Homo sapiens: one gene and its partners. The protein of the gene in region 3 purifies or fractionates together with the protein of the main gene of each other region. This does not show direct contact. Each region holds a gene or a part of one and is shown on either strand. Other genes may lie near its edges. The genes, in order: CBX1, CTBP1 and EHMT1.

Evidence for each region.
Region 1: the proteins of EHMT1 (region 3) and CBX1 purify together in Homo sapiens (affinity purification with mass spectrometry; 3 studies listed by BioGRID and IntAct, with this or other methods). This does not show direct contact.
Region 2: the proteins of EHMT1 (region 3) and CTBP1 purify together in Homo sapiens (affinity purification with mass spectrometry; 5 studies listed by BioGRID and IntAct, with this or other methods). This does not show direct contact.

What each region holds. Positions count from the first base shown.
Region 1 is NC_000017.11:48,069,425-48,079,597, reverse strand, and holds the end of CBX1 (chromobox protein homolog 1), read left to right. Parts: intron 1-2,556; 5' UTR 2,557-2,593; coding exon 2,594-2,733; intron 2,734-3,419; coding exon 3,420-3,597; intron 3,598-4,497; coding exon 4,498-4,592; intron 4,593-8,018; coding exon 8,019-8,163; 3' UTR 8,164-9,539; downstream 9,540-10,173. UniProt on the Homo sapiens protein: Component of heterochromatin. Recognizes and binds histone H3 tails methylated at 'Lys-9', leading to epigenetic repression. Interaction with lamin B receptor (LBR) can contribute to the association of the heterochromatin with the inner nuclear membrane.
Region 2 is NC_000004.12:1,244,544-1,255,530, reverse strand, and holds the start of CTBP1 (C-terminal-binding protein 1), read left to right. Parts: upstream 1-6,400; 5' UTR 6,401-6,575; coding exon of another isoform or gene 6,576-6,615; intron 6,616-6,802; exon of another isoform or gene 6,803-7,323; intron 7,324-10,987. UniProt on the Homo sapiens protein: Corepressor targeting diverse transcription regulators such as GLIS2 or BCL6. Has dehydrogenase activity. Involved in controlling the equilibrium between tubular and stacked structures in the Golgi complex.
Region 3 is NC_000009.12:137,830,296-137,838,091, reverse strand, and holds the end of EHMT1 (histone-lysine N-methyltransferase EHMT1), read right to left. Parts: intron 3,744-7,796; coding exon 3,568-3,743; intron 3,320-3,567; coding exon 3,139-3,319; 3' UTR 1,965-3,138; downstream 1-1,964. UniProt on the Homo sapiens protein: Histone methyltransferase that specifically mono- and dimethylates 'Lys-9' of histone H3 (H3K9me1 and H3K9me2, respectively) in euchromatin.

The DNA of each region.
Region 1 (10,173 bases), on a different chromosome or scaffold from region 3:
CACTTGAGCCCAGGAGGTCAAAGCTGCAATGAGCCATAATTACTTCACTGCATTCCATCCTAGGTGATAGAGTGAGACACTGTCTCAAAAAAGAAAAAAAGTTGTAAAATAAACTAAATACAATAAGTTAACAAGAAATTTGTGAATCGTAAGTTCAATTCAGAAAAGACTGCATAAAGAACAAGAGAACATGGCTGGGCACAGTGGCTCATGCCTGTAATCCCAGCACTTTGGGAGGCCATGGCGGGTGGATCACTTGAGGTCAGGAGTTCGAGACCAGCTTGGCCAACATGGCGAATCCCTGTCTCTACTAAAAAAACAAAAACTAGCTGGGCATGGTGGCACACACCTGTAGTCCCAGCTACTCAGGAGGCTGAGGCAAAAGAATCACTTGAACCCAGGTGGCGGAGGTTGCAGTGAGCCAAGACTGTGCCACTGCACTCCAGCCCGGCTGGAGTGAGACTCCATCTCAAAGAGGGGGAGGTGCGGGGCCGGGGCTGGAGCTGGGTTCGGTGGCTCACGCCTGTAATCCCAGCACTTTGGGAGGCCAGCACGGGTGAATCACGAAGTCACGAGTTTGAGACCAGCCTGGCAGCTTGACCAACGTTGGTGAAACCCTGTCTCTGCTAAAAATACAAAAATTAGCCGGGCGTGGTAGCTCACACCTGTAGTCCCAGCTACTCAGGAGGCTGAGACAGGAGAATCACTTGAACCCGGGAGGCAGAGGTTGCAGTGAGCCGAGATTGTGCCACTGCACTCCAGCCTGGGCTGGAGTGAGACTCCGTCTCAAAAAAAAAAAAAAAAAAAAAAGTCCAGGCACGGTGGCTCACGCTTGTAATCCCAGCACTTTGGAAAGCCAAGGCAGGCAAATCACGAGGTCAGGAGTTGAAGACCAGCCTGGCCAACGTGGTTAAACCCCGTCTCTTCTAAAAATATAGAAATTAGCCAGGCGTAATGGCGGGCACCTGTAAAACCAACTACTCGGGAGGTGGAGGCAGGAGAATCGCTTGAACCCGGGAGGCAGAGGTTGCAGTAAATTGAGATCACACCATTGCACTCCAGCCCAGCTCACAGAGTTGAGACTCCGTCTCAAAAAGACAAAAACAGACTGGGCATGGTGGCTCAGCTCTGTAATCCCAGCACTTTGGGAGGCCGAGGCAGGCGGATCATGAGGTCAGGAGATCGAGACCATCCTGGCTAACATGGTGAAACCCCGTCTCTACTAAAAATACAAAAAATTAGCTGGGCGTGGTGGCGGGCGCCGGTAGTCACAGCTACTCAGGAGGCTGAGGCAGGAAAATGGTGTGAACCCAGGAGGCGGAGCTTGCAGTGAGCTGAGATTGCACCACTGCACTCCAGCCTGGGGGCAGAGCAAGACTCCATCTCAAAAAAAAAAAACAAATTCAAATCCAGTACTTTGATGAAAAGGAAAACTTGGAATAGGAGAAAGTATGAGTCAGAGAGTAATATGTAAGTTTTATTGATATGTGCACATTTTTAGGAGGACTGCTTTTCTTTTTTTTTTGAGACAGTGTCTCACTCTGTTGCCCAGGCTGGAGTACAGTCGTGCGATCTTGGCTCACGACTGGCTAATTTTTGTATTTTTAGTAGGGACAGGGTCTCGCCATGTTGGCCAGGATGGTCTTGAACCCCTGACCTCAGGTGATCTGCCCGCCTCGGCCTCCCAAAGTGCTAGAATTATAGGTGTGAGCCACTGCACCCAGCCTTTCAATTTAATGCAATATTTTAGCTACCGTGCTCTTTTACAACGGTTTTTTTGTGAAGATGGAGTCTTGCTGTGTTGCCTAGGCTGGTCACACACTACTGGGCTTCAGGAATTCTCCCACTTGGGCCTTCCAAAATGCTGGGATTGCAGATGTGAGCCTGCACGCCTGGCCCTAGCTACCATGCTTTATGGTAAAAGGAGTATTGGGAGCCTTTTAAAATTACCAAGAATGGGTATAAAAGTTTTAAATGGATACACAAGAATAAAGAAGTTTGCTGTGAAGGCCAGGCGTGGTGGCTCATGCCTGTAATTCCAACACTTTGGGAGGCCGAGGCAGGTGGATCACCTGAGGTCAGGAGTTCGAGACCAACCTGGCCAACACATAGTGAAATCCCGTCTCTACTAAAAAAAAAAAAACAAAAAAAACAAAAAAAAAAACAACAAAAATTAGCTGGGCTTGGTGGCACACGCCTGTAGTCCCAGCTGCTTGGGAAGCTGAGGCAGGAGAATCGCTTGAACCCAGGAGGCGGAGGTTGCAGTAAGCCGAGATTGCGCCACTTTGCACTCCAGCCTGGGCAACAGAGCAAGACTCCGTCTCTCAAAAAAAAAAAAAAAGTTTGCTGTAAGATTAATTGGGGCTGTTTTATGAGCTTTCTGGCTGGACATATCAGAAAACTATTTTGTATCGAGTGTGAGAAGAAGCCTAACACTTACTATAAGCAGCATACAATATTATCACCTGTCATGTCCCTGGTTTTCTTACCATCCAGATATTATCTAACCAATAAGAGTGCTCCCTAATGCCCTTTTTATTTCATTTATCATTTTAGCAGCGTCACCCTTTACACCAGAAAGCTGGCGGGCACTATGGGGAAAAAACAAAACAAGAAGAAAGTGGAGGAGGTGCTAGAAGAGGAGGAAGAGGAATATGTGGTGGAAAAAGTTCTCGACCGTCGAGTGGTAAAGGGCAAAGTGGAGTACCTCCTAAAGTGGAAGGGATTCTCAGAGTAAGTTTCACTGACACAGGTAAATGTAGCCACCACGTGTTTATCAGGAGTCTAGAGATGTATGAGACCTCCAGTGCTATGATGGATACAGTGTGACTCAGTCCCCACCTTCATGGCTTATTGTTTAATTAGGAATATGGCCTACTGCTTATAATACAAAGCAGAATGACTTCTTTTTAAAAATTATTTCTTTTGAGACGAGGTCTCGCTCTGTCACCCAGGCTGGAGTACAGTGGTGCAGTCATAGCTCGCTGCAGCCTCAACCTCCCAGGCTCAAGGTATCCTCCCACCTCAGCCTTCTAAGTAGCTGGTACCACAGGCATGCACCACCATGTCTCGCTTAGTTGCCCAGGTTTGTCTCTTAACTCCTGGCCTCAAGCAGTCCTCCCACCTGGGCCTCCCAAAGTGTTGGGACTACAAGCATGAGCCACTGTACCCAGCCCATAGTGATTGCTGAGAAACAGTTTTGTGTGTGGCTACAGACCAATTTAAATTGACAAATAAAAGTCATTTGCCTTTGAAGGAAGCCAGTTTCTTAGCTTTCTATTTATACTAAAAAGCTTCCCCATTCCCCAAGAATTTCAGCTTTTCCATAGACATCTGAGGTCTTGTCCTCTTACGATTATCCTTAGTATGAGTATACTTATTTGAGTGAAAGTGTGACTTGCTGTGCCCTCTGGTTTCAGTGAGGACAACACATGGGAGCCAGAAGAGAACCTGGATTGCCCCGACCTCATTGCTGAGTTTCTGCAGTCACAGAAAACAGCACATGAGACAGATAAATCAGAGGGAGGCAAGCGCAAAGCTGATTCTGATTCTGAAGATAAGGGAGAGGAGAGCAAACCAAAGAAGAAGAAAGAAGAGGTAAGAATAGAAGTAAGAATTTTTACTAGCCCACAATTCAAACTACTGTCAAAGTAGTTTTGTTCTGCTTCTTCCCTGATATTAGCAGCTGTCTCTTCTTAGTCCTGAAATCTTAGGTAGGCTAATGCCTACAAAGTGAGAGTGTACTGTCATGAAGCCACATGATCTCTTACTTTTTATCCATGGTACAGGAGCAGTAAATGGAAAACTTGCTGGGGACAGATATAAGGGCAAGTGAATTCATTCTTGTAAAAAATAGTTTTCAATATTTAATCATTAAAGGTGTGAGGTGGCTATTTTGACTTAATCAGTATCTTAAAGTAAGTTGTTTTTTGAGAGTGAAGAGATAGTTGTAAACATTGATTTTGCTTGGGCTGTATGTCCCTTTTCACATAGGGAAAATCTCATGCGCTTCAGACATTGATGAATAATCACTCCAAAGGATTCTAACAGCTCTCTTACTTGAGCCAAGGTATTGGTGAAATATTGGCAAAAGAGTTTGTGATTGGGCCGGGCACGGTGGCTCACACCTGTAATCCCAGCCCCTTGGGAGGCCGAGGCGGGCGGATCACAAGGTCAGGAGATCAAGACCATCCTGACTAACACGGAGAAACTGGGTCTCTACTAAAAATACAAAAAATTAGCTGACGTGGTGGCATGTGCCTGTGGTCCCAGCTACTTGGGAGGCTGAGGCAGGAGAATCACTTGAACCTGGGAGGCAGAGGCTGCAGTGAGCCGAGATCGCACCACTGCACTCCAGCCTGGGCGACAGAGTGAGATTCCGTCTCAAAAAAAAAAAAAAAGAGTTTGTGATTACATTAATCAGAGACACAGGAATGGTTCCAGTCTGGATAATAGTCCCATATAGATAAAATTGTTCTACCCATCTTGTTTTTACAGTCAGAAAAGCCACGAGGCTTTGCTCGAGGTTTGGAGCCGGAGCGGATTATTGGAGCTACAGACTCCAGTGGAGAGCTCATGTTCCTGATGAAATGGTGAGTCGGCCAGTGGCTCTGTGTGGTTGTTTTTTTTCTTCTCCCATTGGTTTCATGCCAGAGGAAAAGAGCTGGACCTTCGAAATTCCAATCACCCAAGTGTGAAATTGTTAAGATGGCATAGTCCTTCGATAGTGACCCTCGGCCTGACTGCCACCCTGGACTCATGAGTTACAGGTAGGAGCCCTTAGGAATCTTGGGTCTTTGCCCATATTTTTAGGAGGTGGGAGACAATCTAGAGTGGAAAGAGTGTGGGAAGGAATTACATTTCACTTCTGTAAATAAAGGGGGAGAAAATGAAATGTGATTGGACCACCCTCTCCTTCTACCACCTCCTTAATAAAGATGAGGCTGGCCCCAGAATCAGAAATTCTGCTAAATTCTCAGGGTTAGGAAAGAATCTGTAGTTCTTCCTTTTGTCCTTAATTGTTGGATCCCTTTCAATTTGTGCAGATTCTACAATTACAGGATCAGCCAGCAGGGGTCAGCAAGGCTCCTTAACTGCTATCAAGCATAGAGCAAGCCTGCTTTTTTCCATTATGAGTATAAATACCAGTGATAGTAATACTCCATGAAACAGCCTAATGAAGATAGTTATCCCAACAATCTCTGTAATTTTCCTACTCTGTCAAAAGAAGGCCATTCTTCCTATTTCTTGCTCATTCTCCCCACAAAGTGGATCTCAATGATTGTATTTAAAATTTGGAAGGAATAATTCTAAGCCATTGCCAATGAAGGCAGCATTCTAGAAACTTTGTCCTTTAAAACACACACACACACACACAGTCTATGGAGCTTTGTCCTTTTGTCAGTCCAGAACTTACTCTGAAACTCGTGTCTGTACTAATTATCCTCTTTTACAGTATGGCTGGAGGGGCCTAACTTTAGCACCACTGAAAGCCAGAGTCACAACTAACTAACCTATTCTCTTCTATGTATTCCCTAGGCAGTTACTGGAGCTGCCCCTCTTTTAGCTGATTTATTGTTAACCTATAAGAGAAAAGTTCATTTTTAAGATGCTGCTTATTGGGTGGGAGAAGTTATACTGTGAGTTACTCAGTTTAGCTAGAATATACTTTTTCTGCATGTGACCAGTGTGAGTTACAGTAGTATCTCCATATTGCTTAAGATTGTACTCCTTTGGTTGACTCACTACTGTCTTTTTTTTTTTTTTTTTTTTTGAGACAGTCTCACTCTTTCGCCCAGGCTGGAGTGCAGTGGCACGATCTCAGCTCACTGCAACCTCCGCCCCTCCGGGTTCAATGATTCTTCTGCCTCAGCCTCTCAAGTAGCTGGGATTACAGGCATGTGCTACCACGCCTGGCTGATTTTTGTATTTTTCATAGAGATGGGGTTTCACCATGTTGGCCAGGCTGGTCTCAAACTCCTGACCTCAGGTGATCCACCCACCTCAGCCTCCCAAGGTGCTAGGATTACAGGCGTGAGCCACTGCACCTGGCCGACTCACTGCTGTCTACAGGTTAAAACTGGATTTGATTATAAGACAAAGTACATTTTAAAAAGTTATTTTACTGGAGAATAGAGATTTTTGTATATTTCTAAAAGTAGTAAATATTTCTGGGGAGTGAAATGACTAAATTTAACTCAGAGGGTGTTGTTCAGCTGTCAGCAAATGGCAGCATGCTTCAGATTCCCATTTCCCTCCCATTCTCTTGGGTCCATTGTTCAAAAACATACATTATCAGCTTACTCTTCTGCTCTATGGGACTATGTGGCTCTGATTTCCTGTTATTAAGGTTCTAGAGATTTGGGGTGGTGCTTTGTCAGAGATGTCATCAGGTGTCTCCTGCTTGCTTTACGCTACTGCTTCTGTCTAGGACATTCCTAATAACCTGAAGATAAGAGTTTGTTTTTTTTTTAAATGAGACAGAGTCTCGCTCTGTCACCCAGGCTGAAGTGCAGTGAGGCGATCTCTGTTCACTACAACCTCCACCTCCCAGGTTCAAGCGATTCTTGTGCCTCAGCCTCCCGAATAGTTGGGATTACAGGCGCACGCCACCATGCCTGGCTAATTTTTGTATTTTTAGTAGCAACACGGTTTTGCCATGTTGACCAGGCTGGTCTTGAACTCCTGGGCCTGCCCACCTTGGCCTCCCAAAGTGCTGGGATTATAGGCGTGAGCTACTGCTCCCTGCCTAAGAGTTTACTCCTAATTCCCTTATAATGTGTATGATTTTCAAATTTTGAAAACTTTTTTTTTTTGAGACAGAGTCTCACTCTGTCGCCCAGGCTGGAGTGCAGTGGCATGATCTCGGCTCACTGCAAGCTCTGCCTCCCAGTTTCACGCCATTCTCCTGCCTCAGCCTCCCAAGTAGCTGGGACTACAGGTGCCTGCCACCACACCAGGCTAATTTTTGTATTTTTAGTAGAGACAGGGTTTCACCGTGTTAGCCAGGATGGTCTCGATCTGACCTCGTGATCCACCTGCCTCGGCTTCCCAAAGTGCTGGGATTACAGGTGTGAGCCACTGCGGCCAGCCACTTGAAAACATTTTAAAATTCAGAAAACTACAGCTCCCTCATTTTCTACTCCCGATGTTGAAACATCATTTCAAAGCACCTGGAAGTTATGCGAGGATAGCATTTGGAAGTGTCAGTGTAATTACGATTATGCAAAAAGTGTCCATCTTCATTTGCTCTGGCCAATGCCAGATGTGGTATTTAATCCTATTACGGGCCGGGCGAGGTGGCTCATGCCTGTAATCCCAACACTTTGGGAGGCTGAGGCAGGTGGATCACCTGATGTCAGGAGTTCAAGATGAGCCTGGCCAACATCTTTAGTAGAGATGGCAAAACCCCATCTCTACTAAAAATACAAAAATTAGCTGGGTGTGGTGGCGCACACCTATAATTCCAGCTATTAGGGGAGGCTGAGGCAGGAAAATCGCTTGAACCCAGGAGGTGGAGGTTGTGGTGATCCGAGATCATGCCACTGCACTCCAGGCTGGGCAACAGAGTGAGATTCTGTCTCAAAAAAAAAAAAAAAAAAATCCTATTACAAAGCCAAGATTTCTCCATGGGTTCTTATCAGCTGGGATATGGCTTTTGGAGGAGTGTGGTAACTTCTCTTCCCTCAGAGAATCTAGGTATCCTCTCTTCCCTCAGAGAATCTAGAGAGTCATGCTTTTTGGGGCCTTGCCCAGATGTTCAGATGTGATTGGTTAAGTCCATTGACCTGGCTTTTGACATACACGAATCCCCAGAGGGAATTTTCAACAGGAGAGTTAACTCTGAGGATGTCACTTGACATACAATTGCCAGTAAATGCTGCTTGGGCCACGTTTTCATTGTTCCCTAGCCTATTTTTCTAAAATTACCATTTTTAAAGCACTGTCCCCTGGGTTATCCAACTTAGGATAGACCACCAGCACCTGGTCTCAAAGTCTCTCTTTGCTTTATTCTGCAGGAAAAACTCTGATGAGGCTGACCTGGTCCCTGCCAAGGAAGCCAATGTCAAGTGCCCACAGGTTGTCATATCCTTCTATGAGGAAAGGCTGACGTGGCATTCCTACCCCTCGGAGGATGATGACAAAAAAGATGACAAGAACTAACGCTCCTGAGTACCAGCCCCTGTCACATCTGACTGTGGGTTTCAAGTGGGAAGGGAAGGAGTTCTACTTGTCTTGACACCATAGAGGTGGCTTGAGAAGATGTCCTTTGAAGAGCCAGTATAGTTTCTGTGCCCTGCAGCAGCCCAAGTGCTTTAAAGCCGTTTCAAGCTGTATAGTTTGCACACCCATCCCAGTGGAGGGGAAAGGGGATAAGTGTTTCAAGGCAACCTTTTCTGCACTTTGCTGCGAAAAGCAAAGGGCCTTCTATGAAGGACAAAACTTGCAGAATTGGGTGTGTGGGAGAGCAAAAAAATACTGTAGATCTTCAAAGAGCATCTCCACAACCCACAGCCTTCTTCCCAATAGTGTTAACTCTGCATTTTTACAGCGTAGCATGTGTGTAGTTTTTGGCTATTACTGGTGTATTATTTGGGGGAGGGAGGGATGGGGAGGGGAGAAAGGGAGATGGGTAGCATCATTTTGATTAACATTTGGGGCCTGATAGGGGAAATGGTGAAGCAATGGAAAAGAACAGACAACTAATGATTTGCTTCTATGTCCAGAATATTTTACCTTTAAAAAAATGTCATTGGCACCATAAATAAGGACTGTGAGAGACTGTTTAAAAGCTGTGAAAGTCTGAAACCTATAAGCCAAGGTGTTCCCTGCCTAAACTTATTGCTGTTCCCACAAAGGACTAAGCCTGTTCATAAGTTACCAAAGTTGCCATTTTGGAGATGGAAATTGACGAGGAGGGAAGGTCTTTTATTGGAGAGTATACAGTACAAGCAGATCATTCTGCCTTAGAGGTGCTAATTCCCGAAATTAGAAGACCCTTTCTTTTCCAGTAACGAAGTTATAAATATCAGCTTGTTCATCCAAGCCACTGGCTGAGGTGTTAGGAAGAGGAAGAGGGTGGTAGAGGAGGTAAGACAGTAGGGAAAGACAAGGGCCCATGCTCTTAGTGGGGAAAACTCTTGGAGCCGTTTACTTTGAGCTTTGAACACTGAAACCATTGTTGGCAGGGTTCAGTCACTGACAGCACAAGTTTCACTGAATTGATCCAAGAGTTTAGTGATTTCAAAAGCCTTGGTCTCAGGAGAAGATTAAACTTTCATATTGGGCAGTGGTTCACTTTAAAACACACACATACACACACAAAACAATTTTTTAAGAAATCCTAATAAGTAACATACCCAAAATGCTCTGTCTTGAGTCATGAGAACCATCAGTTCTTGATATTGTCTAGACTTGCATCTAGAGCTACGTTGTAAAATTCTTTTAGGCATGTGTTAGATTTCTGTGTAAACTTTGTTTAAATGTAAACTTCATACTACATTGTCAGTTTTTGTCTTAATAAAACTATAGATTTATAATCCCTGATTTCTGTCTTAAGTCTTACCAGGAACCCTTCTTGCCTTATAGGTTCAGCCTGTTGGAAATGGCTTCCTCACTTGAATGGTTTTATTTCTTGAACACTGTAGGCTTGAAAATCTAGTGCCTGGCCTGAATCTTTAAGTGGTCACACCATGTTAATTTAGTAAATACTTACTGGGCATTTATCAGTTGCTGCAGAGGTTGTAAAGATGGTCGCATCATGCTGTCTTCAGTACTGCCAAAAGTTTATTGAGCACTCTGACCTGATAGCACTTCCAAACTATGGTATATTTGGAAACATGGGTTTTTAAGTTAGGTTTAGATCCTGCCTATGGTATGTAATAGATTATATGACCTTGGCTAAAATCTACTTCTCCAAAATTTTCCAGGAATTTGGCCCTGTGTTTGCGCACTGATTTAAAACGTCATTTTCTGCCTATGATTTTTTTTTTTTTTTTTTGAGATGGAGTCTTGCTGTCACCCAGGCTGGAGTACAGTGGTGTGATCTCGGCTCACTACAACCTCTGCCTCCCAGGTTCAAGCGATTCTCCTGCCTCAGCCTCCAGAGTAGCTGGGACTACAGGCGCGTGCCACCACACTTGGCTAATTTTTAAATTTTTTTAGTAGAGATGG
Region 2 (10,987 bases), on a different chromosome or scaffold from region 3:
TGATAGAAGCTGCACCATGGGAAAGCCTACATGGCTGGGAGCTGAGGGTGCCTCTGCCCAACAGCCAACGAAGAGTAAGCTTGGATGCAGACTTCCTCAGGCAAGCCTTCAGATGAGACCACAGATACTGTGCTATTGTCCTGATTGCAGTCTGGTGAGAAGCCAATATGCAGAGGACTCAAGCCACGCCTGGATTCCTGACTCATGGCAATGGTGAAATACTGAATGTTTTTTAAGCTGCAAAGTTTTGGGGAATTTTGTTATGCCCCAATAGGTAACAAATAATGCTATGTACAGAATCCTATGTTACTACTTATTTTATCTTGTGACTTTGAAAAAAATCGATATTTGACTATTGCTTGGCTTTTATCATTGTAATTGATAGGCTGCTTTCATGATAACTGCTTTTGATGTAATCTGAGTGGTTTTATTTTTCACTTTAAAATTTTTTTGTCTTTTGTATTCTGTAGTTTTACTCCTAAATGTAGAAGTGTAGTTTCATCTTTTTTCCCCAGCTGAAGTCTCACACTGTTCCTGAATCTTAGGATTCACATTTTTCATCAAGTATAGAACTTTCTTAGTGATTATCTTTTTAAATACTGTTGCTTCCTCATTCTTCTAATCATTCAGAATGGAACTCTCATAGATGTTTGGGATCTCCTCATTCTGTCATCATGCTCTGCCTCGCATCAGAAGTAATTTCTGCATATACCACAAATTCAGCTCTCAGCTGGGTCTAAATTGCTTTTTAAACTCACTCATTGAGTTAATTTTAGCAAGCATGGTTTTTCATTCTAGATATTCCATTTAGTTCTTCAAAACTGCCTATTCTTCTACCACTCCCTTGCAATCGTATTCTTGTTCATTTACTTCTTTTATTCCTGTAATTCTTACCCATGTTAAACATGTTTAATTAATGTTCTCTTTTTTGCTTGATTCACCTTTTGAAGGCCTTTGGTGGCGGAGTCCGTTCCTGCTGTTCACACATCTGCTGACTTCCCTCATGTGGTTCTTTCTTGGCATGTTTTGTACTTTATGATTGTAAATTCATCTTCAGTGGGCTTTATGGGTAGGAATTGGAGGGGGCTAGATTGATAATGTCTACGTGATTTTGCTTCTATCACTGTGCCTGCTTCTGTCATGGGCTTCAAGGGTATTACTAGCCTGGGCCCAGGTTTTATATCAAGTTATTTGCTGCAGGGGTGGTAGGGCCTGGACTGTGAAACCTGTGAAAATTCGATACCTAGGCTGGGCACGGTAGCTCATGCCTGTAATCCCAGCACTTTGGGAGGCCAAGGTAGGAGGATCACTTGGGCCCAGGAGTTCAAGACCAGCCTGGGCAACACAGCTAGACCCTGTCTCAAAAAAAAATTCAATACCTGAAGTCTAACAAGGCTCTGAGTCCTGATTATCAATTGTCATCAAAACTGTTTCTGTCTCACAGAACCACAACAGGCAGGCAAACACAGAACCATCCTGTTGTCTTCCTGTTCCTGTGGGCACACTCATTCACATCTCTCCTGATGGCGTAGCCCTTTGAGTGCCCTTGTTCCAGTTCCTGATTCACGTGGATCCAGGGAGGCCTCGTCTCCTTTCCCATGTGAGTGTGGAGACTTAAACCCCGGGGCTCCAGACGAACACTCTCCTGGGCTGCTGCCCTTTGGCTCTCACACTTTAAGACCTGGTTTTCAGCCTTCTGTTTGTCTCTGGTTCCTGTCACATCCCTGACCTCCTTGTGAGCTCAGCTCTGCATCAAGTTTGTTGTTTCTATCTTGTGCTCACAAGTTCTGTTCTGGGAGGCTTTTGGGGTTAGACCATCACAGGTAAAGACAGAAGGGGAAATCTACTTTTGCACCATTTCTAAGATCAATTTCTAGGCTTGTTTTCAGAACATTTGCCATCCCCCTCTGTTCTGGTTTGAATAATTGTCCCCTCCAAAATTCATGAAGTTTGATTGTCATTGTGATGATCTTGAGAGGTGGAACCTTTGAGAGGCGATGCAGCCACGAGGGCTTTGCCCTCCTGAATGGGCTGGTGCTATTATCATGGGAGTGGGCTTCTTATCAAAGGGTGGGTTCAGCACTCTTTTCTCTCTCTCTCCTTGCCCTTCTGCTATTCTGCGATGTGATGATGCAACAAGAAAGCCCTCACCAGATGCAGCCCCTTGAGGTTGGACTTCCCAGCCTCCAGAACCATAAGCCAACAAGCTTCTGTAAGCTGTCAGTTACCCAGTGTGCAGGAGTCTGCTATAGCAGCACAGAATGGATGAAGACATCATTTTGCAATCCTACAAGAAAGGTGTTCTTTTGTACTCATTTCATCACTGGCTAAACTGGACTCTGGATGGCTAAAGTAACAAGGCAGGTCTGTCTGCTTCCAGAGGACCTGTCCTGCTGCGGCGGTTCTGGGCTCCCCTGCGCTTTGTGGCATTTTACAGCTTGCAGTCATCCTGCAAGGTAGATGTTACTTCTCTTCCCATCTTATGGCTGAAAACCAAGCCTTACAGCAGTTATACAAGTTATGTGGCAGTTTTCAGCGATTGTATTAAAAAATATTTTAGGTAAACAATGTGGTGTATATACGCAATGGTATACCAGTCAGCCTTACAAAGGAAGACAATGCTACCATATATGACAATATAGATGAACCAGAAGGGCATTATGTGAAAAAACCCAGGCACAGAAAGACAAATGCTGCACAATCTCACTCACAGGTGAAATCTAGAAAAGCTGAACTCACAGAAGCAGAGGGTAGAATGGTGTTTACCTGGGGCTGGGGCCGGGCAGTGATGTTGGTCAAGGGATACATTTCAGTTACATTGGAGGAATATGTTCTAGGGATCTATAGTAGGACATGGTGACTGGAAAATTGCTAAGAGAGTAGATGTTAAGTGTCCTCACCACACCAAAAAACAAAAAGTATGTGAGTTAATGCATGTTAATTAACTTGATTTAGCCATTCCACAATGTATTCATACTTTAAAACAAGTTGTAAACAATATATACAAGTATTATTTGCCAATTAAAATACATACATTTAAAAATATTTTAGATATTTGTCCATTTTTGTTTCAAGTTTACTTGCTGGTCATTTTATTGTTAAAAAATTCTTGGTTGTTTTCGGCTGGGCACAGTGGTTCATGCCTGTAATCTCAGCACTTTGGGAGCCTGACGTGGGTGGATCACCTGAGGTCAGGAGTTCAAGACCAGCCTGACCAACATGGTGAAACCCCATCTCTACTAAAAATACATAAAATTAGCTGGGCGTGGTGATGGGTGTCTGCAATTCCAGCTACTCGGGAGGCTGAGACAGGAGAATTGCTTGAATCCGGGTGGCAGAGATTGCAGTGAGCTGAAATTGCACCATTGCACTCCAGCCTGGGCAACAAGAGCGAAACTCTGTCTCAAAAAATAAAAATAAAAATGACTGGTTTTTTTTTCTGTGTGTACATGACTGACAAGACCAGTGGTTTCCTTTAATACCTCATCGACGTTCCCAGGCACTTTTTGTATTTGAGGTGTGTGAAGTAATAGGTTGGCCCTTGTCTTGAGCGTGATACTGAACACACCGACTAATAAAATGGGGGCCTTTGGCTGCACACCAGGCGCTCTGGGTACTGATGAGCTCGCCCCCAACTCCATGCCAGGAATCAGAACGGTTGCCCGGGAGAGTCGGCAGAAAGAGGAGGAACCGGATGCAGTGATCTACCTGGTTTGTCCTGGTGTCCAGTAACTTGGAGTTCTTCTTTCACACGTGGCTGGCACAGAGGAGACACTCATAAATACCCGAGTTGAATAAAATAGTCCATTGACATGGAGTCGCATGAAGCAGCATTCGTCCATCCAAAACGCCGATGCTTCTTTAGAGTGGACTGAGTTTTCCCCCAATACTAGGTTGTCCCACGCGATGGACAAAAATAGCCCATGTGGCAACGGAGGCTGGCCGGGGGGACCTAATGCCCATGCCTCTGGCATTCCCACCAAGGTGACTGTCCAGTAGCTCCCAGGACAGCCCATCCGTGTAGGGCAAACGCCATGAGCCACTCCTGTGTGCAGGCACAGGGCAGGCCCAGGCACAGGGAGGCGGGTGGGCAGGCACACAAACAGCCAAACGCTGACCCTGGAGGGCGGTGGTCATCTGCTCATCACAGGGGAAAGACTGGAGGTGGGAGAGGCAGGTGCCACCCGCAGGAGTTGGGACGAGCTGTGCACACGGCTGGGCACACGCAAAGCTGAGCCTTCTTCGTGAGCAACACGGTCACATTTGGGTGTAGGAATCTTGGCTGGAGTTGCCCAACGTGGGGAGCAGACAGCTCTGCAGCCAGGACCCCAGTTGGAGAAGGCAGCGCTTGGAACAAGCCAGGACAGTGGACAGACGGGCCGGTGCCAAATAGAAGTCATGATAACGCGCTGACAAGCTGTGCAGACGAACACTGTGTGTAGACGGAGGCCATGGAGAGTGACGATGGGGAAGACGCTGGATCCCTGGCTGGCCTGCATCCCTCTCCGTTCTCAGTTGCCTGTGGAATTCCGGGGAGCTCTGCTCCAGCTACACTGCACATAAAAGTGCGCAGGAAGTGGATCCTGGAGAGGAACTGTTCTTCTGGACTGAGCTTGCTGCTCATGGCAGCCCCACCTGCAGGACCCAAAGCCTTATGTGATGTTTGCTGGACACTCAGCCACGTGGCTGCCTGTTGAGCTCTGCAAGTCCACGCGGGAGCCAGGAATTCCTCCCCAGAAGTCTCTCCATTATATTCACCACCCCCTAGTAAATCACAACCTGACTTGCTGCAGAGGATGGAGTGCCTGGGACTCGTCTGACCCCAGCTCCCCTGGGGAAGTGGGGGTGGTACGTCCCTGCACCCGGCCACGTGCTGCCTTCTCCTGGGCTGCCTGTCCATGCTGAGCAGACAGGAAAGTCCAGTGAGGTCCCTGCCTGTGCACTCCACCAACCACATCGTCCCTTCCCGGCAGCCTCACCTAGGCCCCTCCAGCTACGACCCCTTGTCCCCTGCACCGATGCCTGGCCTTGGAGGTTGCTGCTCATTTTTCTGGAATTTTTTCTTAGATCTCTGCAGGGCTGCCCCTCCCCCTACAAGGGCTCCACACGTGTTCCCTCCTTCATGACTCCCACTGGGCTTCCCCGACAGGGCCTCACCCTCCCCAAAGCTCTGGTGACACCTGCCAGGTTTCCTCCAGGCCACAGCTCGGCAGCCCGATCTTAGAACAGAACGTGGCACGCAGGGCAGGTCTGGCTGAGGGCCCAGCATTGTCAGCGGGGTTGGAGGTCTTCCCGGGCCTCGAAGGGGAGACGTAGGCTTCTCAGGGCAGCCCAGGACGCGTCCTCACGAACCACAGCGAAATTACAGCAGGTATCTCGCGGATAGGAGTCTGCATCATTCCGTCTCCATGCCGTGGTTTCTGAAATTATGCAACTATCTCGGCATTCCAGAGGGCTCAGAGTAGCCACGCGCAGAGGCCCTCCCCATGGGGTGGATGGAAGCGTCCACTCGCGGCGCGAGGAATATCCCTGGGCCCCTCGGGAGAGTCTGCAGGGGCAGCCCCTGGGTGAGCAGGCCCAGTGCGGCCTCTCCCTGAAGGGACTTTCGGGCCCTCCCGGGTCGGGGCTTCACCGGTAGCAGGCAGGGCTTTGATATTAATGCTTAAAGGGAAAGCAGAGCTGAGCTGTCAGGACGTTGGTTAGCTACAAACCCTACTCTTGTTAAAAGAGAAATGGGGTCGGGGAAGGGGTTCTCCAGCCCTGAACTTCCCGGGCCGGGCAGGACGCGGTCCCTCCAGGAGTCGGGGCTCCCCCGCCTGGGGACGCACTGGGGCAGGCGCGCTTCTCCTCTCGGGGTCCCATGTGCCGCCGGCTCTCGGACGGTAAATCAGGGCTCGGGTGGGGGCGATGGGGGGCCCGCGGCCTCGGTGCCCCTGGCCAGCCTCGGAGGCGCACGGGCCAGGCCGCGGGGCGAGAAGCGAGCGCGGGAGGGCGGCAGCTGGCGGAGCGGGAAGGGAGCGGGGCGGCTGCGGCTGCGGCGCGGAGGAGCGCCATTTACGTTCGGGCCCGCGCCAGGCGCTGACGTGGGCGGCCCTGTCTCGGCTTCCGGGCCCGCAGGGTCCTCGGGGCGGACGGCGCTCCCGCCAGCGGCGCTGAGTCCGGCCCGACCCTGCCCGACTTCCTCGGGGACAGGCGGTTTAGAACGTGCGGAACACCAGGCCCGGGGCCTCCGCCGGGCTGCAGCCCCGCGAGCTTCCCGCCAGGCTCCCGCCCCGCCCCGCCCCGCAGCCGCGTCCCGGCCGGGCGGGCCCTGAGCCGCCCGCGTGAGTCCGTGCGCCGCCCGCGCTGGGAACCAGGAGACCAACCGCGAGGCCCCGCCCGCGCGCGCCGCCGTGTCCCCGCCCGCGCGGTCGTCGGAGCGCGGCTCAGCGGCGCGGCGGAGACTCGGCACGGCGGCGGCCAGGCGCAGGCGGGCGGGCGGAGCAGCGGACGGCGCCGAGGCCGCCCCACGCGCCGGGCTCGCGGCGGCGCAGCGCGCCGGAGTGGTCGGGGCCCGCGGCCGCTCGCGCCTCTCGATGGGCAGCTCGCACTTGCTCAACAAGGGCCTGCCGCTTGGTAAGGCCGCGCGCGCGCGCGTTTCCGGCCGCGGGCGGGGGCGGGGCGGGGCGGGTGCCGCGCGGGCGGGGGGCGCGGGGGCGGACCGAGCGCGCGCCCGCGGGCCGCCGGCTTTGTGTGCGAGTGCGCGTGCGCGCCGGCGTCCGCGCGTGGCCGCGGTCGGGGGCGGGACCGCGGGAAGGGTCTTGCGCATGCGCGGGCCGCTGCGTGTGCGCGAGCGCCGCAGTCTGCTCTCCCCGCCCGCGGCCCGTGCAGGTGACACAAAAGGGCCTGTGGGCCTCTGGGCTGCCCCGCCGGACCCCCAGCTCCACCGACCCCAGCCCCGTCGGACCCGGGACGGCACCCCGGGTCCCGATCCCCGGCCGCTACCCCGTCCCCGGTCATGACCCCGTGGCTGGGCCTGCGGGGCCGGGATGGGGCGGGAGCCGTGCGCAGCTCGGGGTGTCCTGGGGCGCGCGCTCCCGGGCCACTCGCGGGAGCGCGCCTCCCGCGGGGAGGCCGCCGGCGACCGTGGCCGCGCGCTGTGGGGGAAGGGGACGGGGCGCGGGTGCCGGGTATGACCGTGGAGGAGGCCGCTGCCCTCAGACCGGGCCCAAAGCGCAGCCCCCGGCGGTGACGCGGGAGGGCCCGGGGTCTCCGTTCCCGCGAACTCCGCGAGGTCCCGGACCGGCCCAGCGCCCCCACCTGCCCTTGCCTGGGCCCGCCCAGGTCCCGGGGCGCCTTCCTCGCGGGCTGCGGCCGCGGAAGCAGGGAGCACGGGCGGGCGCCGGGCTTGCCACCATCGCCATCTTGCAGCGCCCGCGTCCTGGGCCGGCCCGAGCCGCTGCGCGGAGCCTCTCTTTCCCTCGACCCGGCTGCAAAGGCAGAGTCCGTGCGCCTGAGCCCCGGGCCGAGACTGGAGCGTTCTCTGGCGGCCTCCAAGGGCGCCGGTGTCTGGAAGCCCGGCCTGGGCCAGATCCCTTTTGCTGTCGTCTCCGTGATTGCCGGGACAGAATTCCCTTCCAGTGGGGAAAAGGGAAGGCGGTCGCGCCCTTCCCGGTGCCCTGAGTGGGGAGGTGAAACCCTGAGAGTTGGGGCAAGAGGGCCTGGAGCTAGGGCCGAGGCGGCGGGTGCGCAGGGTGTTCCGTTGAGCCCGAGCCCCCCCCCCCTCCCCGGCCTCTCCACCGTTTCTGTAGGAGCGCGGCAGGGAGCACACGTCCCTCGGGAAGAAAACGGCGCTGGCGGCTGGGCCCGCACCGCGGCCGTCCTCGCTGAGCTCCTAGCGCGTGGCCTTTGCGCGTCTGTGTACCCGTCTGCAGCTTGGGGCAGGGTTGGGGGAGAACCGTGGGGTAACTATTTGCCGTTGCAGCTGAGGATGACAGCTGCGGTTTGGGGGTCCCCCTTTCTGTGTCCTGGAACTTTGTAGGGCGTGGCTCTGCCCTGGGCCTCAGCACCCGGCCTCCCAGGTCTCCCCTGCCTGCCCGGGCCTGGCCACCTCCCTCTGGGGTCTGGGTTTGGCTCCTGGTTGGGGCTGTCGGCTCCGCAGACGCCTTTTGCTCTCTGTGATTCTGTTGCCCATCTTTGAGCACCTGCTTCCATACAGGCGTCCTCTGCAGAGCTCTGGGAGGGACACGCACTGGGGGTGGCATCTGGTCACTCCTGGGGGTGCCTCGTCCGCCTGCCCGGCCATTTTTGGGGTGTCTGCCATGTCCCCAACATGCACTTCTTCCTGTCAGCCTTGACCAGGGCAGCTGTTAGTTCTGAGAGGTGGGCGTGTGGTTGGGGATGTCAGCGAGTAGGATCTTCCCTTTTACTCGCTTGTCATTAACCTGAGAACGTGGCAGTGGGGGAGGAGAGGCTTGGCCCGGGGTGCACAGGACTGTGGGCTGGTCCTGTCCCTCTGATGAGTGGGACGAGCCTTGGTCCAGTCCTGTGGGCTTGGCGCAGAGCCGGCCCCCTGCCATGTCCTGGTGGGATTGGAAGTGCTGGCTCGTCCTGTCTGCCTCCCCCAAGGGCTGGGAGCCCCCCACTCTTTGGACATTTGTAGTGTAAGCAGACAGCAACTGTTAACCATCATTCTGTTAATAAATTTTTTCTGGAGGAACCCTGGACAGAAGTAGTCATGCTCTCCAGGAAACGGGCCCCAGGCTCGAGAGGCCCAGTCTCTTCCCTCGGGGCTTAGAGGTGGCCGTCAAGCCACACCTGGTTCCCCACCAGCCTGGCAGTTTTTCTGGTTTTTCTCCTCTGACTGTCACTTGCCCTCTCAACTTCCTGCGGCCAGTACCCCCAGAATGTGACCTGGTCTGAGCTGACGGTGGTGTCACTGAGCCAAGAGGCGTGTGGCTGGCACCACTAGTGTTGCTGAGAACTCTTCAGGCAGCACTTTGTGCCCGGCTGTGCCCTGGTGCTCCCCATGCAGTGCCCAAGTCAAAGGTGTGTGCCCTGTGAGGTGTTTACCCCGGTTGACTCTCCTTGTAGAAGGACTTAATGTTTCCCACTCCACTGGGGGCTGGAGAGGGCTCCATCCAGGTGGTGCTGACGGTGCAGGCCTGGCCCAGGGCCCAGGGGTGGCCAGGAGGTGGTAGAGGCAGCAGGCAGTGTCATACGGGTTCTGTGGTTGAACTGCATCGCCCAAGGGAACGCTGGTCGGAGCGCCGGGTGGAGCGCCAGGGTCCTCTGGTGGTCGCTGGATGTTGGTAGTTGTGGGTAAGAGCTCTGTGCCGGGAGTGTCTGGACCCCCGGGTCCTCCATTGTCAGCTGCAGTGGCCGGAGCCCACTGCTCTCCCCCGCACTGGGTCGTGGTAACCCACAAGGTGCCACCTGCGTCACTGACCATCGTTTCCAGAAGCCCCTCCGGCCACACATTCCATGTGGTATCTCCCACAAGGAAATGTTCGTTTTTTTCCCTGTGAAGCCAGAAATTTCTTGGTGGCTCTTTGCCGAGCCAAACGTTAACCTTGAGTTGTCTCTCTGGGCGGCCCCAGGTGGTACCAGTTCTCACGGGTGTTGAAGGAGAGTGAGGATGGCCCTGAGGGAAGCCCAGTTGGTTTGGTTGGGGAGGCGTTGGGGCTATGGCCCTGAGAGAGGTGTGGGCGGTGTTGGGACCAGGCCCCTTCTGCACCCTCCCCTGGCACCGCCGTTAACTCTCCAGGCCTGGTGTGGCCCAAGCCACCCTGCCTACCCGTGCTACCCTACCCACACGTGCCACCCTGACCTGCTTGTGCCATCCTGCCCGCCCGTGCCACCCTGCCCACCCGTGCCACCCTGCCCTGCCGCCCGTGTCACCCTGCCCGTCCATGCCACTCTGCTATGCCGCCCGTGTCACCCTGCCCTCCCGTGCCACTCTTCCCTGCCGCCCGTGTCACCGTGCCCTCCTGTGCCACCCTGACCTGCCGCCCGTCTGTGGTGTGGGGGCTCCTGGGCTGCCCTGTCTGCGTGGCTGGCAGGAGCCTCAGAGGCATCCGAGGCTGTCTCTCCAGTGGTGTCGTGTGTAGACTGTGTTGGGAAGGGGAGGAAGGTGTAGCCCTGATACCCCACATGTGGTAGGAGCCAGGAAGGTGGCGTTCTGGGGGTTCCTGGAGCTCACAGGTTGTGTGCATGTGCTCGCTGAACAAACAGGGAAACGTGCGGCTCCACGGATGTCCTGGAGAGGAATCTTGCTGGCAAATCCATGCCTTTGATCACAGCCCCTGCGCTGTGTCCTCTGAGCTGTGATGCGGCCCTGCAGGCCCCGTGGAGTGCGGTGGCTCCCTGGCTCACAGGGATGCTGCCGTCCAAGGTGCCGTATCGGCTCGTGGATGACTTGGGCAGTGTCTGTCTGGGGTGCTGTCGTCGGAGGAGCTGTTTCAACCTGTGGGTGACGGGCCTTGTCTGTCTGGGGGAGGTTCTCTTGGCCCCGTGCTCTCAGCCCAGTGGCTCCATGCTGCTGTGCGGCTCCCTCTTGGGGGCCTGCCTTCTCTGCCATTGCAGGGCAGGGCCTCAGTTTTCTCTGGGCGGCAGGTGGCTGTATCTCAGGACTGGAAGGCTCCGGGTCAGGCTGTGCACAGCCTTCGTTCATGTCAGCCCCTGGCTGGGCAGCACCGCCAGGCCCTAGTCTTTGGGCCTCCAGGCCTGGACAGCCAGAGGGGGCATCTCACCAATGCCCAGATGGCTGCCGGGGACTCACGGCAGGGCAGCTTTGTCACGAGAGGGCCACTCGAGCCCGGAGTAATCAGGGCTTATGGGGACAGGGCAGGGTGAGGGCCGCTGAGACCACCCAGCCTTAGGGTGCCCTTCTGGTGGTCGGGGAGCCCTTCCTGGGCAGCGGCTTTAGGGGCTGCTGTGGGGAGGGGGAAGAAGATGGGGTTGGTGAGGAGGAGCTTTTGGGACACTGTCCTGGTGGAGGTCGTGAGGG
Region 3 (7,796 bases):
GGGGAACTACGTTCCCGAGTCACCATGGGTCAGGGGAGGAGCTAAAAAAGGGGCCCTGGGTCCCTCAAGCCTGCATGTGGGGGGCGGGGGTGCCAGGAGCCAGCAAGCACAAGGACCCACTGTGTGTGGGCACTGCTGCCATCTCCTTGGCCTTCCCGGCTGGGGCCCCCTGGGCTCCACAGTGTCACACCCAAGTCCACTCACTGAGTGCCTCAGCAGGCCGACCCCCACCCAGTGAGCTCAGAGGGGCCTCCCCTCCAGCCCCACAAGCCTGTTTTCTCTCACAGACTACAGCCTGGGCCAGGACAAGGGTGCAGGCTGCTCTCTGCCCAAGTGGGCTAAGAACCTGCTAGGAGCTTTGCCCACGTGAGGGGTTCTGGCTGCTGCAGGACCAGAGGGCCAACCTGCATGGGTTTTCCATTTTTATTTATCCAAAGAGGAGAAAGAGGGAGGGGAGGGGGAGGGGGAGGGGGAGGCCTCCTGCCCTGCCCCGGCCCACCTGGTCCCTGTGAGACTCACCTGCCTGTTCCCCGCACCTGCCGCAGGTCCCCTCAGCCCCCTTCCCAGGCCTGCACTCCCCGGAGCACGTGCAGCTGCTGCCCCACAGCGCAAAGGCCCTGTAAGGTCTCTTCCTCCCAAGCCGAGTCTGGTTTAGGGACAAGGCGGTCACGGCAGAGCTGTCCAGGACCATGTGAGGTGGGCTCTGTGTTGGGTGCTCATTTTAAACGGCTGGAACTTTCTGTGACAGGGCCCAGTTGTGGGGCCACCCTGGTGGGCCTTCGTGACACCCAAAAAGTTTGCTGTTGGCTTAATTCAACCAATACCTGTTTGTACACCCAGCAGCTGACCCAGGGCACGGAGCAGAACAGGTGGACACTCAAGCCACAAAAATTAATTAGAGTCATCTGCCAGCTACGGGCTGTCCCAGGGGAAGGGGTTGTACCAGCTGCTCCTCTGGCAGGGCTGCTCCCCCTGCAGGGCTGGTGGAGCCGGCAGAGCCTGAGGTTCAAGCTCCAGTGGGCCCTCAGTCACCTCCTGCCACTGCCTCTGGGATGAGGTGACCTGCGACCCCTACACCCTCCTGAGCCCGGGCTTGGCGGGAACCCAGCCCACCCCACACAGCCCCTCCTCACGGACGCAGACGTGAAAGGCCGTAGGCTGTCTGGGCTCCTGGAGGAATGCGGCCTCCCCTGTGGCCCTGTGCAGAGGGGTCACAGGTGGGCCATATCCATCCTGGGTCCGCCTGCCCAGTCCTTCATGCAGTTGCGCAATGTCTGGTGACAGGCACTCGTACCTCAGGCTGGACGACCGCGCACCCTGCTGGGGCCGTCTATTCACAAAGTGCAGGGCAGTTATGACTGTGCTGGAAAAGCATCAAAAACACCTGCGTGAATTCTGTGTATTAAACCGTGGAGTGTCTGAGCGTGTTACTGAGGTTACACGAAAAGCCCTCCTGTGGTGAGTGAGGCCAGTCAGCATGGAGAACATAGCAGGCTGGAGGCTTTGGGTCTAGGGGTCCCCGTAGAGGAGTGGGGGTCATGGCTGGCAGGAAGTAGGACGGGCTCTGGCTCTCCCTTGTCCGGCCTCGCTGTTCAAGTGCAGCTCTGCCTCTGGTTGTGGGACTCACCTGATGTGCCCTGTCGGCTTCCAGAATGACGCCCAGAGCTGGGCACCTGGCGCTAGACACAGACATGCAAACACACACACACACACACACACACCAGTGTGCCCGCATTCGCACCACGTGCACGATGCATTCGTGGACACACACAGACTCATTCGACACGTGCGCAAATGCACAGGCTCCCCTAACCTCTGCCTGGAACGTCCCCTCTTCGGGGACAGATCTGGGGTGAAAAGGAAGCTGTACTTCCTTGGACAGGGGACAGAGAGCTGGGCCGGGTCCAGGGGGACCTGCAAGTTCTGCAGAGACCCTGAAATATGGTGTCATAATAAAAACCCCATTTAAAGTACTTCTTTTTTTTTATTGATTTCATTGGAAACAGAACAAGAAATGGTCAGAGCCAAAAGACTGCTCTTAAAACTGTCAAAAACATTTTAACAGAAAAAAATAAACATGACTGCATTATGAATGTTTTTAGAAGAGTTGCACAAAAAAAACCCCACTGTTACTGCACTAATTACAGTCTTTAAAAAGGTATATGCCAAAAAAAAGTATATGACCTGCCAGGCCACCACACAAAAGGTGATGGCAAATTTATTCACGCTACAAGACTAACATCTTTAAAAAAGTTTTTCCTGCATTTTATTCTAAAATCACTTTGTTCTCTTTATACAGTTGATAGTTTATTTCACGTGGTGAGTAGAAACCACACCAGAATCAGCACCGTTGTCTGTGTTTTGTTTTTTATTTTGTGTTTGTCCTAATGTTCAGTAATGGTAGAAAATAAATCAGTTTATTCATCATAGCATGTGGCTTAAAAAATCAACAGAAGGTGCCAGCGTCAACGGAACCGGCGGGGGCTGCACCCACCAAGCCACTTCCTCGAAAAGAAACGTCAGTTAGAGGTTTGATATATAGGACTAGATATAGGATTCCTTTAAAAAGCAAACCCACATTTTCTCCAAAGTTAGTGGTGGGGTCGGTCTCCTGACCTCTCCGAGCCTGACAGGAGACTGTGCCCTCCGTGCGGCCCCTGGGACTCGGCCCCAGCCACGCAGGCCGTGGGCAGGGCGAACGGAGCAGCTCGCGCTAACGGTGGCTTCGGCGGCGCCACACAGAAGAGTCTGGGCCGGACAGGAGAACAGAGCAACCCCGTGGTGCAGCGGGGACCTCGGAGGTCAGAGGAAGAAACGAGAAACTTCGCAACGACAAATCAGCATCAGAAACTCAGAAGGTGATGCCAGTGCGGACTCCCAGCGTCTCTGGCGCGCGGACCAAAGTGTGCGCTCCAGCCTGGGCACTGGGCCCGCGGTGAGGCCGCAGGTCTGGGAAGGTGGCTGGGAGGCATCCACACCCGCCCGCAGGGGCTGCAGCCTCACCTCCGACCCCTCCAGGAAGCCGGCGGCGCAGCCCCGAAGGACCCTTTCGGTTGCGTGCGGAATCTCTCCTCCTCGTCCTCTAATCGGCGACGCGGCGGTCCCTGGCTCCCGAGCGCCCCGCTGGCCGGCGGCGTCTCATAGGGGGTCGGCGGCAGCCGCGGAGCTGGTGTCGGGCAAGCCGTCCTCCTGGGCCTCCTGGGCCGCGCTGGCCTGACGCTGGGCCAGGGCCGCGCTCGAGTGCCGGCACTTGGGGGAGCCGCAGCGGCAGCTGAAGAGCTTGCCTTTGATGTCCCAGAAGCGCTCTCCATAGTCAAACCTGGGGAGGGAACAGAACCAAGGCTCCAAGTCGAATCCCACCGGCACCTCCCACAAGCCAGATAAATTAAGGCAAGGCCAAAGCTTCCTCACCCCGATCTGCCGTGCCGCATCCCAGGTCGCAGTTTTTAGAACTACAGGAAAACCACTAGCATAAACCCGAGACAAGCCCAGGAAAGCAATGCGAGCCCCGTTCCTAAAACCGTCCCGCCGGCAGCGGAGATGGCCAGGGGCCGGGGCGGTGCGTACCCGAGCTGCTCGCCGGCCTCGATCAGGCGGGTGCTGAAGAAGGCGATCCGGGGGAACCGCAGGTCCTGGTGGGCCATGAACACGCGCACGGGCACCAGGTTGGGCTCGCAGTGGTGGTTGATGAACCGGCTGACGTTCCCGTAGAACCGCGCGTCGATGCAGTAAACCTCCCCGTCCTGCAGGGCGAGAAGCCGGCACGGGCTGCAGTTAGCAAGGCCCCGACACGCCGGCCTCGCCGGGTACGGCCATGCATGGCAGTCCCGGAGCCTGCAGTTGGGCGCAGGCCCGCCATGCAGGAGGGGCCTTCTCCAGTGACCTGTGGCGGCGGTGCGGAGCCTCCGCCAGCCTTCTCCTCGCTGTGTGGCCACCCACCCCGCACCCTGCCGTCCTCGCTGGGCCTCCGTCTGTGGTGGGGTGGGGGTGGTGCGGGCCGTTCCCTTGACGGCGTCCCCATGGGGCTTCCAGCGCGGTGGAATGTGGACAGCGCCATCCCACCCGAGGACCCATGGGGCTGTCTGGCACCAATAGGAGAAAGGAGGCCGGGGCTGCAAGAGCCCCGTGAGGCAGTGGCAGGGGCTGAGGGGGTCGGGAGGGATGGAGCTGGCATCCGGGACACACTGTCTTGGTGACGAGGAGGCGGAGCAGTCCCCAGAGGGTCTGGGAAGACTCAGTGGCGAATGGCACCAGGGAGGACCGTCAGGCGGAGGCTGCCCACAGAAAACGACTTCTGCTGCAGCCCTTCCGGGTGCTGATGTGACTGTGGAACACGAGGCCGAAGAGACTGAGGCGTCCTCCTCACCCTGGTGCCTTGGAGAGGAGCCCAGGATTCCGGGTGGCCACATGGCCCTGGGCCCTGGCCCCTGGCACTGGCCTGTGATGATGGATTCTGAATTGACCATAGAGAGGGGGACGAGGTGGGTGGGCCTGACCTAACCACGCAACCCCTTTAAAAGCAATTCTCTCTGGAGACCCAGGGCTTGGAGCTGCTGGGGCCTGGATGGAGGAGCTGCGTGGGAGTAAGGTAGGTGGTCCCGGCCGGCAGCTAGCAAGGAACCTAGACGCTGCCCACGCAACCACAGGGACCTGGGCTCAGCAGCACCCTGCCTGTGCAGCCCGAGGCCCGGCACGCCCAACCCCTGCTGCGCACACTGGGCCGAGTGGGTGGCCGCCATGGCGAGCTGCGGGTGGGTGGCGTGGTTTGTTACCCAGCGACGGGAAGAGGCAACACCACAGACGACAGCCAGGCAGACGGGGAAGGAGGCACCTGGGGCTTTCCAGGACCGAGTTCCGAGAGGGCGGGGCCTGCCGGCAGAGACACCTGGTCCACAACCTGCCCCAGCATGAACATTAACCAGAGAGCCAGGGACGCTCAGAGGTCAAGAGGTTAAAACCCAAACCAACAAGCGGGTAAAGGCGTGGACGAGAGCAGCTCTCCGTCAACCTTCACGGCGCGGGCAGTGACAAGACAGTAAACCAGGCGAGCACGGCCGCAGGACAGGACCAGCCACAGCCCCCAAAGCCAAAGGCGCGGGAAGCTGCCTCCTGGTTTACCCCAAAGAAACAGAGTTCAGAGTGGCTCACCTGGCGTGGACTTTGGCCTCTGCTTCGGGGTCTGATGGACTAAGAATCTATAGGCGACCCCTCCTCGTGCAGAATGCAATTCCGGAACTAGCAACGGCGCACACACGAAGGTCTTGATAAGCAGCAAAATGGAGAGTGAGGGGCTTCCGACTGGAGGGGCCAGGCCCAGCTTTCACCAGGGGCAGCTCGTCTGGCAGAGCACACAGCGCTGCTCCGAGCTTCTAAGATGGGTGGGGTGTCAAAGTCTGTGACACAAATCTCTGCCCGACCAGAACCAGATAAAGACAACAGTCCAGAGAAGGACGGCTGGAGTAAGGCAGATAGGCAACGTGGGAGGCGGGGCCTGCGGAGAGAGCCCAGCCAATCCTAGGACTGGAGAGAAGGCACAGGGGCCACATGGGTGGGTGGGGGGAGGGCCTGCGGAGGGAGCCCAGCCAATCCTAGGACTGGAGCGAGGTGCAGAGGCCGCGTGGGAGGCGGGGCCTGAGGGAGACCAGCCAATCCTAGGATGGGAGCAAAGTGCAGTGGCCACGTGGGAGGCGGGGCCTGTGGAGGGAGCCCAGCCAATTCTAGGACGGGAGCGAGGTGCAGAGGCCACGTGGAAGGCGGGGCCTGTGGAGGGAGCCCAGCCAATTCTAGGACGGGAGCGAGGTGCAGAGGCCACGTGGGAAGCGGGGCCTGAGGAGGGAGCCCAGCCAATCCTAGGACTGGAATGAAGGCACACAGGCCATGTAGGAGGTGGGGCCTGTGGAGGGAGCCTGGCCAATCCTAGGACTGGAGGGAAGGCACAGGGGCCACGTGGGGTTGGGGGGTTCTGCGGAGGGAGCCCAGCCAATCCTAGGACTGGGGCGAAGTGCAGCGGCCACGTAGGAGGCGGAGCCTGTGGAGGGAGCCCAGCCAATCCTAGGACTGGGGCGAAGTGCAGCGGCCACGTAGGAGGCGGAGCCTGTGGAGGGAGCCCAGCCAATCCTAGGACTGGGGCGAAGTGCAGCAGCCACGTAGGAGGCGGAGCCTGTGGAGGGAGCCCAGCCAATCCTAGGACTGAGGCGAAAGCACAGGGACCACTAGAGAGGCCGGGCCTGCAGAAGGGGCCCAGCCAATCGCACTAGGGAAACAAGGCCCACGCAGAAGAGAAACCAGAGTCCTCCCCACATGTTAACAGGAACAACTCAAGGGACCTGACGCTTGAAACACTGAGGAAACGAACACGTCCGAAAGAACACTCAACTGAGTCCAGCCTTGAGATGAACCAGACACTGGGCCAACAGACACGTATTTTCAAGGCAGCTCCTAAGGCTGTCCTCAATGAAGAACAAAGAAAGATTTCAAGGCATGAAAATATCAGAGAAATGAGAAGTCTCAGCGGAGAAACAGAAAAAGAATCCAACGGAAATTCTACATCGAAATTCACTGGCTGCTGAAGCCATCACTGGGTGGATGAACAGAATCTCAGAGATTTGCCTAATGACAGGTAAAGTCAAACAAATTGACTTGTACGCAACATTATTTGAGATAAATAGCAAGGGCTGAAATCAACCTGAATGCCCCAAAAAGAAGGAGAAAGATTTCCATGTACGGACAATATGATGACTCTCCCCAAATCCTGTCGGGAGAAAGGTAAGGGCTCGTGCACTATCTACACTCTACCACTTTTTGTGTAAGAAAAGAGAAGGAATAAGAAATCTACTTGAGTATTTTTTCTCGATTTCTGCTGATGGTTACTGCAGGTGCTACAGTTGGAATGTGTGTGCCCCCCGACCAGACTCACAGGCTGAGACCCCAAGGTTAGGGTGAGGCTTTGGGAAAGCGATTAGGTCATGGGAGTGGAGGGAATTGTGCCCTCATAAAAGGGACCCCAGAGAACTGCTGCACCCCCTCCACCACGTGGGGACACAGTGAGAAGGCACTGGCTACGAACCAGGAAACCCTCCCCAGACACCAGATCTACTAACACCTTCATCTTGGGACTTCCAGCCCCCAGAGCAGTGAGAAATACATTCCTGTTATTTGTAAGCCTCACGGTTTACAGTGTTTTGCTATCACAGCTCGAATGGACTAAGACAGCAGGAAACAGAATACAGAGAACATGGAGAGAAGCAAGGCTTTTCTGGGTGTGAACTTCCCAAGCATGCAAAAATTTTACACAATCAAAAAACAAAAAATTAAATTGTAACATTTAAAATGAACTAAAATTAATGTAACTGCCTATCAAGCCAGTGACACAATCACACAAGCAACATTTCTGGTGCCGCGAAGCACAAGACTGGGCCCAGCTTCCATGGGACATGTTCTAAGGAGTGAGACGCTGCAAAGAAGCGCAGATGCCATCCGGGAGCTGGACTGGTGCTTACTGTTATCGGTAATATCTGGAGTGCTATTTTGAAACTAAAGATTTTAGAAACCAAAATTTTTATTGTAAGAGATGCAAATATAAAATCAAAGAAGTTGGATAAAAACTCTACACTGTTAAATTTGAATTGGAAATATTAACATGAACACATTTTTAAAAATCTATTTACTTCATAACTCTGTCCTCTGAAAAGTGAGTCAAGAGCCCATGGCACCCTGACAGCAGTGGGCACCCCAGAGTCTCATTTCAGTGTCTAAAAATCTTTCTCTTCCAAAAGCACAAGGACATCCTGGAGAAA